2 separate regions of the Homo sapiens genome follow, and region 1 is linked to region 2. The links come from fine-mapping of genetic effects on gene expression. A gene starts in region 2. The other region holds a variant in brackets. All regions are shown on one strand. Distances are between the middles of the regions.

Evidence for each region. PIP is the estimated chance that this variant, and not a neighbour inherited with it, causes the effect. A credible set is the group of variants that fine-mapping cannot tell apart.
Region 1: its variant is the best candidate, but not a certain one, in a credible set for the expression of EPHX2 in whole blood (TOPMed, PIP 0.74).

Annotation. Positions count from the first base shown.
Region 1 is chr8:27,545,617-27,550,994 of GRCh38, forward strand. It overlaps a transcript of EPHX2 not described here. Among named protein-coding and RNA genes, the nearest start is that of EPHX2, 57 kb to the left of the region's middle. The variant T/C (reference allele first, on the strand shown) is at 2,205.
Region 2 is chr8:27,488,521-27,493,898 of GRCh38, forward strand. EPHX2 (epoxide hydrolase 2) reads left to right here and starts at 2,623. Exons shown (of 19, transcript NM_001979.6): 1 at 2,623-2,789. The coding sequence starts at 2,689. RefSeq lists a cis regulatory region at 366-680 and a silencer at 2,427-2,706.

The DNA of each region.
Region 1 (5,378 bases), 57 kb after region 2:
TACCCATTCTTTGCCTGGAATATTCCTCCTGCCACCTCCTCCAAGCCCATAGGCTGGGTTCCGAGCCCTTTCTGCCTGCCCCCCTTGCATGGTTATCGGGCTCACAGATGCACGCACAATGGCCTCGCTGCTTGCGAGAGAAAGTGGTCCCTCCAAGCTGAGTTTGGCATGATGACGGGCATGAGTTGGCCAGGTCACAAGAGCCTGAGTATCTGTGTATAGGGAGAAAGCCAGGAGAGGTTTGAAATGGAGGCTGCTGGCATTTCTTCACTGCCCTAGTGCACCTGGAGTCTTCCATGCACCACCTCTGATCCTTCCAGAGAGTCCTTCCCATTTAACCGAGAGGGAAACTGAGGTTCAGATAATTTGCCCAGGACTGCTTGGCTAGATGGGGGCAGAGCCTGGATTCAGAAGCAGGCTTTCTGGCTCCTAAGGCTGAGCTTTTTCTACAAAAAAATGTTCTCGTCGCGCCACTGCACTCCAGCCTGGGCAACAGATTGAGACTCCGACTCAAAAAAAAAAAAAAAAAGAGAAGTTCTCCTTTCTAAATCTGGAGCCAGACCACCTAGGTTAGGCCTCCGGTCAGCTGCATACTCGCCTTGTGACCTTGAAAAAGGATATCTGTGCCCCAGTTCCCTCATCTATAAAAAAGGGGACGTTAGTAGGACCTAACTCATGGGTGGTTGTATCAAGTATGTTAATAATATGCACAGAGTTCTAGAACAGTGCTTGGCATGGAGGAAGTGCTATGGAAGTATCAGCTATAAGATTTCCAGTTTGTCTTAGGACAAGACCTCTAAGGGCTTTCCATTTCCAGCCATGCCACCACCATCTCAATCTTTTGCATCTGAGAATTAAAGGGCTAATTTAAAGGCAATCATGAGGACTGGGGGAAAGGCTTACACCAGATCACATTATTTTCCTAACTGGGTGTATTCAAGCTCATTTGTAAGGGAGCAGTTGGGGGAAAGGAAATAATCAAAACCTAAAAGCGTCCTTTACTGGAAGGAGCACAAACAGCAAACCTGTCTTCCCGAAAGTCTCGCTTTTAATATTCTATCCAGTCATCTCCATCAGCCATCAAAAAGGCCTCAGAAATTCTGCTCCTTTGGCAAGTAAGAGTTGAATAACTCCATTCCATAGCATTGCCAGAAAATATAACTGGTTATACAAGATTGAGGGCTGTATCGGTCTGTTCTCCCATTGCCATAACGAACTACTGGAGACTGGCTACTTTATAAAGAAAAGAGGTTTAATTGGCTCACGGTTCTGCAGGCTTTACAGAAAGCATGGCTGGGGAGGCTCCAGAAAACTTACAATCATGGCAGACGGTGAAGGGGAAGCAGGCACATCCTACGTGTCTAGAACAGGAGGGAGAGAGAAAGAGAAGGGGGAGGTGCTACACACTTTTATAAACAACCAGATCTCATGGGAACTCACCATCACGAGAACAGCAAGGGGGAAATCCGCCCCCAAGATCCAGTCACTGCCCACCAGGCCCCACTTCCAACATCGTGGATTACAATTTGACGTGAGATTTGGGTGGGGACAGAAATCCAAACCGTATCAAGGGCCATAAAGGACAGTGGACTGGAAGAGGTCTTTAGGTTTTTCAAGAAGATAGTGGAATGTCCAGGGCTATGTTTCCTGGTCTGCTTTGAGGACCTTTGGGCCACACGTCAACTGTTGCAGTGGTGGTATCAGGGCATTCCCTGGAACAATCAGGGAAGATTTTCAGATGCCATTTTAAGTACAAATGGCAAGGAGTGTGTTCAAAATGATTTAATTATAAAATGCTATATTTTGGGATTGAATTTAATTTGTAATTAACATACTAGTACATATTCATGGGGTACATAGTGATGTTTTGATACATATAATGTGTAGCAATCAGATCAGGGTAATTACACATGTCATCTCAAACATTTATCGTTTTTGTATTGAGGACATTTAATAACCTCCTTCTGGCTATTTAAAACAATGTATCATTGTTGACTGTAGTCATTGCTCAGTGCTATACAACGCTAGAACTTACTCCTCCCATCTAGCTGGAATTTGACATTCCTTAAATCCCTCCCTATCCCCCACCTCTTCCCCAACCCTTCCCAGCCTCCTATCCTCCATTCTACTTTTTACTTCTAGGAAATGAATTTTTTTTTAGCTTCTGCATGTGAGTGAGAACATGTGGTGTTTCACTTTCTGTT[T/C]CTGGCTTATTTCACTTAACAGAATGCTCTCCATTTCCATCCGCGTTGCTGCGAGAGACAAGATTTCATTCTTTTTTTGTGGCTGAATAGTAAAAATATGTTATTTTTATTTCATGATTACAAAGGGAATAGATTACAAGTATATTCCCCTCTGCTAAAAGAAATCGGCCCTTAAAAAAGAGGTCCAGCAGTCTTCATATTCTCTCTCACACCCTCCAGCAGTGGGTTGTGCTGCTCCCGGGAGGAGGCTGAGATCACTCACATATTCTGTCAAGGAAGGACCACTTAGTGGCTGTCAATTAGCAACATCCAAGGTTTCCAGGAGACCCGTCTTCTAAAAAGTGAGTCTATTAGACTAGACAGGACAAAAAGCTATTTCTGTCTGTCTTGGGGTATAGGGAACCCACGGTTTTAGACCTTGACATGACTGTCCACCAGTTTCCGTGTCGTTCACAGCCACATTACCATCAATACAAATTAAAAGCAAACAATGGTTAAAATATCTAGGTCAGAGGCTCAAAGGGTTTTTTTCCAACAGGAATTGGGTGACAAATATTATGCCTCACTGTTCAAAGGACTCCATCTGGCCACAAATGATAAAATACTTTCTTGCCTGAGCAATTGTAAAGTGTCAACTCCTGCACCCAAATGTGTAACTGTCTGTCTCCCTGTTAGACTGTGAGGGCCCTGAGATCGGGGGCTGCCTGTCTAAGTAATTCGTCCTGAAACCCAACCCAGCACTGGCCTGGCATATGTAAAATGCTCATTAGACGTTTGCTGAATAAATTGGAGAGTATATGCACAAATGGATGAATGGACAAATGCATTAGTTTCAAGTTAAAATAATTAAAATTTGATCGGGCATGGTGGCTCACATCTGTAATCCCAGCAATTTGGGAGGCCGAGGCGGGCGGATCACCTGAGGTCAGGGGTTCAAGACCAGCCCAGCTAATATGGCAAAACCCCATCTCTACTACAAATACAAAATTAGCTAGGTGTGGTGGTGGGCACCTGTAATCTCTGCTACTTGGGAGGCTGAGGCAGAAGAATCGCTTGAACCCAGAGGCGGAGGTTGCAGTGAACCAAGATCATGCCATTGCACTCCAGCCTGGGCGACAAGAGGGAAATTCCATCTCTATAAATAAATAAATAGCCTAATGTCCTCGAGGTTCATTCATGTTGTCGCATGTGTTGGAATTTTCTTTCTTTTTAAGGCCAAATAATATTCCATTGTATGTATAGACCACGTTTTGTTTACCTACTCATTCAGCAATGGGCACTTGGATGGCTTCCATATTTTGGCTATTATGAATAATGCTCTGAGCATCAGTGTACACATATCTCTTTAGGGCTCTGAATTCAGTCCTTTTGGGTATATATCAAAAAATGGAATGGCTAGATTATATTGTAATTTCTATGTTTAATATTTTGAAGAACCACCAGATGGTTTTCCATAGCTGGTTTCCATTTTCTGTTTTTTTAATATATAGAATGGCCATGTGATGTCCCATGATGGTTTTATTTGAATTTCCCTAATGATTAGTGATGTTGAATATCTTTCCTTTTTTTAAATTTATTTATTATTATTATACTTTAAGTTTTAGGGTACATGTGCACAATGTGCAGGTTAGTTACATATGTATGTATACATGTGCCATGCTGGTGTGCTGCACCCACTAACTCGTCATCTAGCATTAGGTATATCTCCCAATGCTATTCCTCCCCTCTCCCCCCACCCACAATAGTCCCCAGAGTGTGATGTTCCCCTTCCTGTGTCCATGTGTTCTCATTGTTCAATTCCCACCTATGAGTGAGAATATGCGGTGTTTGGTTTTTTGTTCTTGCGATAGTTTACTGAGAATAATGATTTCCAATTTCATCCATGTCCCTACAAAGGACATGAACTTATCATTTTTGATGGCTGCATAGTATTCCATGGTGTCTGTGTGCCACATTTTCTTAATCCAGTCTATCATTGTTGGACATTTGGGTTGGTTCCAAGTCTTTGCTATTGTGAATAATGCCGCAATAAACATACGTGTGCATGTGTCTTTATAGCAGCATGATTTATAGTCCTTTGGGTATATACCCAGTAATGGGATGGCTGGGTCAAATGGTATTTCTAGTTCTAGATCCCTGAGGAATCGCCACATTGACTTCCACAATGGTTGAACTAGTTTACAGTCCCACCAACAGTGTAAAAGTGTTCCTATTTCTCCACATCCTCTCCAGCACCTGTTGTTTCCTGACTTTTTAATGATTGCCATTCTAACTGGTGTGAGATGGTATATCATTGTGGTTTTGATTTGCATTTCTCTGATGGCCAGTGATGGTGAGCATTTTTTTCATGTGTTTTTTGGCTGCATAAATGTCTTCTTTTGAGAAGTGTCTGTTCATGTCCTTCACCCACTTTTTGATGGGGTTGTTTGTTTTTTCTTGTAAATTTATAGGAGTTCATTGTAGATTCTGGATATTAGCCCTTTGTCAGATGAGTAGGTTGCAAAAATTTTCTCGCATTTTGTGGGTTGCATGTTCACTCTGATGGTAGTTTCTTTTGCTGTGTAGAAGCTCTTTAGTTTAATTAGATTCCATTTGTCAATTTTGGCTTTTGTTGCCATTGCTTTTGGTGTTTTAGACATGAAGTCCTTGCCCATGCCTATGTCCTGAATGGTAATGCCTAGGTTTACTTCTAGGGTTTTTATGGTTTTAGGTCTAACGTTTAAGTCTTTAATCCATCTTGAATTGATTTTTGTATAAGGTGTAAGGAAGGGATCCAGTTTCAGCTTTCTACATATGGCTAGCCAGTTTTCCCAGCACCATTTATTAAATAGGGAATCCTTTCCCCATTGCTTGTTTTTCTCAGGTTTGTCAAAGATCAGATAGTTGTAGATATGCGGCGTTATTTCTGAGGGCTCTGTTCTGTTCCATTGATCTATATCTCTGTTTTGGTACCAGTACCATGCTGTTTTGGTTACTGTAGCCTTGTAGTATAGTTTGAAGTCAGGTAGTGTGATGCCCCCAGCTTTGTTCTTTTGGCTTAGGATTGACTTGGCGATGCGGGCTCTTTTTTGGTTCCATATGAACTTTAAAGTAGTTTTTTCCAATTCTGTGAAGAAAATCATTGGTAGCTTGATGGGGATGGCATTGAATCTGTAAATTACCTTGGGCAGTATG
Region 2 (5,378 bases):
CAATTGAGACCTTTAATCTTTGCCTAAGCAATTCAGCCAGAAAGCTCTGTAACTCACAAGGCATTATAAAAATATTCCACACCAGAGCTATTTACAAGTTAACTGCTCCTGAATAAATAAAAGTCCATGTGATAGCTTCATGGCTTTCTCTTAACCAAAGAGGAAAGTAAAACTCATATTTCTATGTTTTTAAATTTTTCTTCTCAAAAGGGGGCTTTATGAAATCTAGTTCTGTAGGTATGTCGTTCCTCTACACTTTACTGCTTGTATAAATATACTTACGTATTCATAAGCAATACTGTGCTAGATGCAGAATTCAGATGCAGGCAACAGAAATCACTGTAGTTATTTTAAATAGAAACAGAAGAAAGGGATTTAAGATGAGAGACTGCAAGCCTACACAATCTTTGAACGGAATGGAGGAGTGAGCTCCAGACTGAGCCTTTAGGAAGGACTCCCAGAAAACACCACCATAGAACTAGAAGCTGCTATCTCTGCCTCAATCAGCAGGCCACCGCTAGAAACACGAACATATGGTTTGGCTGGGAGCCAAGGATCTGGAAGCAACTCCGTGGTCTCGGGACTGAGCCACTGAGTCAATGGGGATGCCAGTTTGTAAGATAGGGAACACACTAGGAGGAACAGGCGTGGGAAGTAGAAATGCAGAGAGAGTTCTGTTTTAGCCATGATAAATTTGAGATGCCTGTTAGACACTCAAGAGAAGATGTTCAGTAAGAAGTTGGATATTGACGTTGAGTAAGATGTTGAGTAAGAAGTTGGCAAGTCTGGAGCCCAAAGGAAACTCTAAGTTGGAGATTTAATTTCTTTCTTTTTTTTTTTTGGAGGTAGAGTCTTGCTGTGTCACCCAGGCTGGATGGAGTGCAGTGGCACAATCATGGCTCACTGCAGCCTCCACTTCCTGGGCTAAAGTGATCGTCCCACCTCAGCCTCCTGAATAGCAGAGACTACTGGCATGCACCACCATGCCTAGCTAATATTTTATTTTTATTTTTTATAGAGAGAATGTCTTGCTTTGTTGCCCAGGCTTGTCTCAAACTCCTGGCCTCAAGCAATTCTCCCACCTCAGCCCCAAAGTGCTGGGATTACAGGTGTGTGCCACCATGCCCAATCTGGAGATTTAACAGGTTTCATACTATATAGGTCAGGCTGCAATTTTCTTTCTATTTTTTAAAATTCAATTATACCTTTGAGATCAACTAACTTCATGAGAAACTAGCTTGCTGTACTCCCTTCTCTGCCTATCTTTCAGTCTTCAAATCCAGAGTAATCCAGTTTCTACCATAAAGGGCCCACAAAAAGTGTTCTGAAACATCCGGTGTCATCCAAGTCCAAAATTGGACAGCTTTTTTTTCAGTTCTTCCTGTAACATTTGGCAGTGTTGGCCACTCTCTGCTTCTTTGGCAAGAATCTCAGAAAACACTAATAACTGCTCCAGGCAGGAGCCTGGAAGAGGTTACCAAGCTAGAGAAGGAAGCAACAGCATAGCTTGCTAAGGGCAAACAGCCCAGAGGAAACCCACGGCTCTGGTCAATCCTGTTGTTGATTGCTAGATCCAGAGACTGTTGTAGACCTCCCAGTTACAGTGAGGTATCTGACAACCCCTCACAAGGTTCTTGAAGCTCCGTGGTGGAGGGTATCTTGGATAAATCCACAGAGACACATTCAAGAGTAAATTCTCCACTGTTGGAGACCTCACTCACTCTGTTTGGTCTCCACCAAAGACACGGTTTTTAATTCATGGAGCTGCACTACAACAGCTCAAGAACTCCCAGCCAAAGTTTTAGTTTTTCTAGGAACATAAACGAGCCAATAGTGTGGAAATCGGTGATTAAAAACAAACCTCGCACATTTTAAGACAGAATTATTACAAGTAGCATGTACAAAAGGAAAATAATAGCCTACATTTAGTTCTTCTAAGCTTCATTCCACAAGAGATTGAAATCGAAGTATTCTGGGCTGGCACACGATAGCTGGAACATCATATTTTATTCTAGAAACACATTTGCCTTGGCAAAGAAGAGCGTGCCTAGAGGAGTGGTCAGGATAGTGAGGGATCTGTGATCCTTCGTTCTGAATCTAGAAAAGTCACTGGATATGCCCCTCCCCCGCCCCCCAACACGGTCTTATGTTCTGAATGTAGAAGTCACTGGATGTGCTGACACACACACACACACACACACACACACACACACACACACACACACACACACACAGAGTCTGTGGCCTCTTTCCCAGGCATTCCAAGTCCAGCAAGTTCGCAGGGAGCTGTCAGTCCGTCCAGGAAGGCCCGGGCCTGGGTTTGCCTCTTCAAGCAGCTACTGCAGGGGCGTGGGGAGGGGGCATAAGAGACTTTGGACTTTCCTTTGAGACAGTAGAAAGCGTTACATCCAGAGGCGAGATTCTAGCCTGGGGTCCCCGCCTTCCCGGCCTCCTCTTCCTCTCCCTCTGACTCCCTTTCCTGTGCCCCTCCCCCTGCCTCTTTCCCGGCCAGAGTCCAGCCTTAACCCGGGCAGAGGGCGGAGTCCCGTTAAGGGGGTGTGGGGAGGAGGCGGGGCCAGGGCAGGGGCGGGGCAGAGCCGGGCCAAGCTGGGCGGGTCATGCGCCCTGGCCTTCGCGCATCTCCCAGGTTAGCTGCGTGTCCGGGTGCTAGGCTGCAGACCCGCCGCCATGACGCTGCGCGCGGCCGTCTTCGACCTTGACGGGGTGCTGGCGCTGCCAGCGGTGTTCGGCGTCCTCGGCCGCACGGAGGAGGCCCTGGCGCTGCCCAGGTAAGGGGGCCCAGCGCCGCCGCCGCAGTGGGTCGGGGCCTCAGGAGGCAGACCGCGCTGGGCTTGCAGCCCAGCTTTCAGATTGCTCCTGTGCCGGAGCCCTGCGAATCATGCGAATCATGAAACTGAAGACCTGGCCCTGAAGTCCCAGTGCATATGAGGAGATCCGTTGTCTTTCTAAATGTTCATAATTAAACGTTGCCAAGGTCTCCAAAATTGCTTTCTGTGAACTTTTCCAAAAGGGAGAGGAGTTACTCATGGAGCTTTGTGCTTCTGCTGCCTCCTGTCTAATGGGGTGGCGCTTAAAGATGCGAGCCGAGATTCAGGAGAGAAGAAAGTTCTCTCCCCAGGTGTGGGTTGCATGCTTACTTGTGTAATAGCAAACTGCAGCAACCGCCCAAAGCCACATCACTGGGAAATGGTAGATGGGGTGTGCAGAGTGAGAGCTCAGGGACTTGGGAAAACACCTGTTCTACTACATGAAAAAACCACCCCACCAGAATCTGAAGCTATTTATACAATATGGTTTCAGCTATGGAAAAAAGGTACATGCAGAAAAGTGCCTGAAAGAAATAGGCCAAAGTACATCAAATGAGATTAGGAATAATGTAATGATTTTCTTTCTCTCTCTCTTTTTTTTGTGTTTTTTTTTTTTGTAGTTTCCAACTTCTAAATTTATAAACAATGTATTATTCCCACATTCAGAAAGGAGAGAAGTATACTTATTTATAAAGTGAAAAAGAAGGCCAGGCATGGAAGCCATTGTTCATATCCTCCTTTTACATATGAGGAAACTGAGGCACAGAAAGAAACCAGCTGTCCAAATCACATAGCTGTTAAAGAGCAGAGCCAGAAATCCAACCCCAGTAGTCCATGTCCGGAGCCTTTGCTTTTAATATAGTAAGGAAGATGAGATGGCAAGTAGCTTGAGGGAAAGGCATGTAATCTCTGTGCTTTGGGAAGCTAAGGTGGGAGGATCACTTGAGGCTGAGAGTTCAAGACCAGCCTGGGTGAAAGAGCAAGACCCTGTCTCTCCAAAAATAAAAATAAAATTAGCTAGACATTAGTGCATGCATGTAGCCCCAGCTACTTGGGAGGCTAAGGCAGAAGGATTGCCTGAGCCCAGGAGTTGGAGGCTATAGTTGTGTCCAGAGTTGGTTCCTGTCGGTGGGTTCGTGGTCTTGCTGACTTCAAGAATGGAGCTGTGGACCTTCGCAGTGAGTGTTACACTCGTAAAGATGGCGCAGACCCAAAGAGTGAGTGATAGCAAGGTTTATCGTGAACAGCGAAAGCACAAAGCTTCCACAGCATGGAAGGGGACCCCAGCAGGTTGCCGCTACTGGCTGGGGTGGCCAGCTTTTATTCCCTTATTGTCCTCTCCCATGTTCCATTTCTGTCCTATCAGAGTGCCCTTTTTTCAATCCTCCCCGTGATTGGCTACTTTTAGAATGCTGCTGATTGTGCGTTTTACAGAGCGCTGATTGGTGCATTTTACAATTCTCTTGTAAGACAGGAAAGTTCCCCAAGTCCCCACTCGACCTAGGAAGTCCAGCTGGCCTCACCTCTCAATCCTCCCTCATAACAGGACACCCCACCTGCTACTGGGAACTGGGTGATGACCACTCTAGCTACTTCCTGCTGGATAGGGGCAAAGAAGGGGCCCTGCCGTTGTAGTGTCCTCCAGAGGGGAACTCTCTAGGCCAGTCAAAGGGCCAGTGGGTCAGTCTAGCAGTCCTCGGTAGAAGTTGTGAGTTAAGCTCATTTGGGGTTCCATTTGTAAGACCATCTGTAGCTTGATGGCCTTGATCCTGGAGGAAACAAATTTGAGGAGGAGGTTAAAAATACAGGGACTGAAGGTGAGTAATAGCAAGATGGCTGTCACGGGACCTAGAAAGGGGAGAAGCCAAGTCACCCAACTCCAGAGGTTGGTATAAGAATTTGAAAGGTGTTGTCTGGTTTCAGAAGCCTTTTCCTGTAAATGCCAGGCAGCATCCTGTACTATCCCTGACTGGTTAGTTTAAAAACAACACTCCTCCCCTAAGAAGGTGCAAAGTCCTCCTTTCTCAGCAGTGAGGAGGTCTAGACCTTAGCGGTTTTGGAGAGTCACTGTTGCCAAATAGTCTATTTGGGATTGTAGAGTAAGGATAGATTTATTTATTGCAAACTGTCTGAGAAATCCTTTGAGAGTGTATGGTAGTAGGATAATGAAGTAGTTAAACTGGCTATTCTGGTTCCTGTAGCAGTGGGCATTCCTAGCCCTATAAGTAGGGGTATTAGTTGTATGGTCCTGGGCTGACAGACTTGAGCTTTGAGGGGCACTGATAGGGTCTGATTTCCTGTGGCATTGTTAGTGTTGGGACTTAGGAGAAGGTGCAGGTGCCTGTCCAGCTGGTGGGAGGCAGATATAGGTTGAAGTTCCACATAAGAAGAATATGCCTTGGCTGGGTAGAATAAACTGGTTGTGTATGTTAAAAAGGTGTGTGAGTTTGTTTTCATTTTCCCACACTCCTAGAGTACTTGCCAAGGTAGCTCTGGTGAGCAGCTGGAAAGGGTGTTGGGAGCAGACTGAGTGGCTCCCTGTGCTCTATT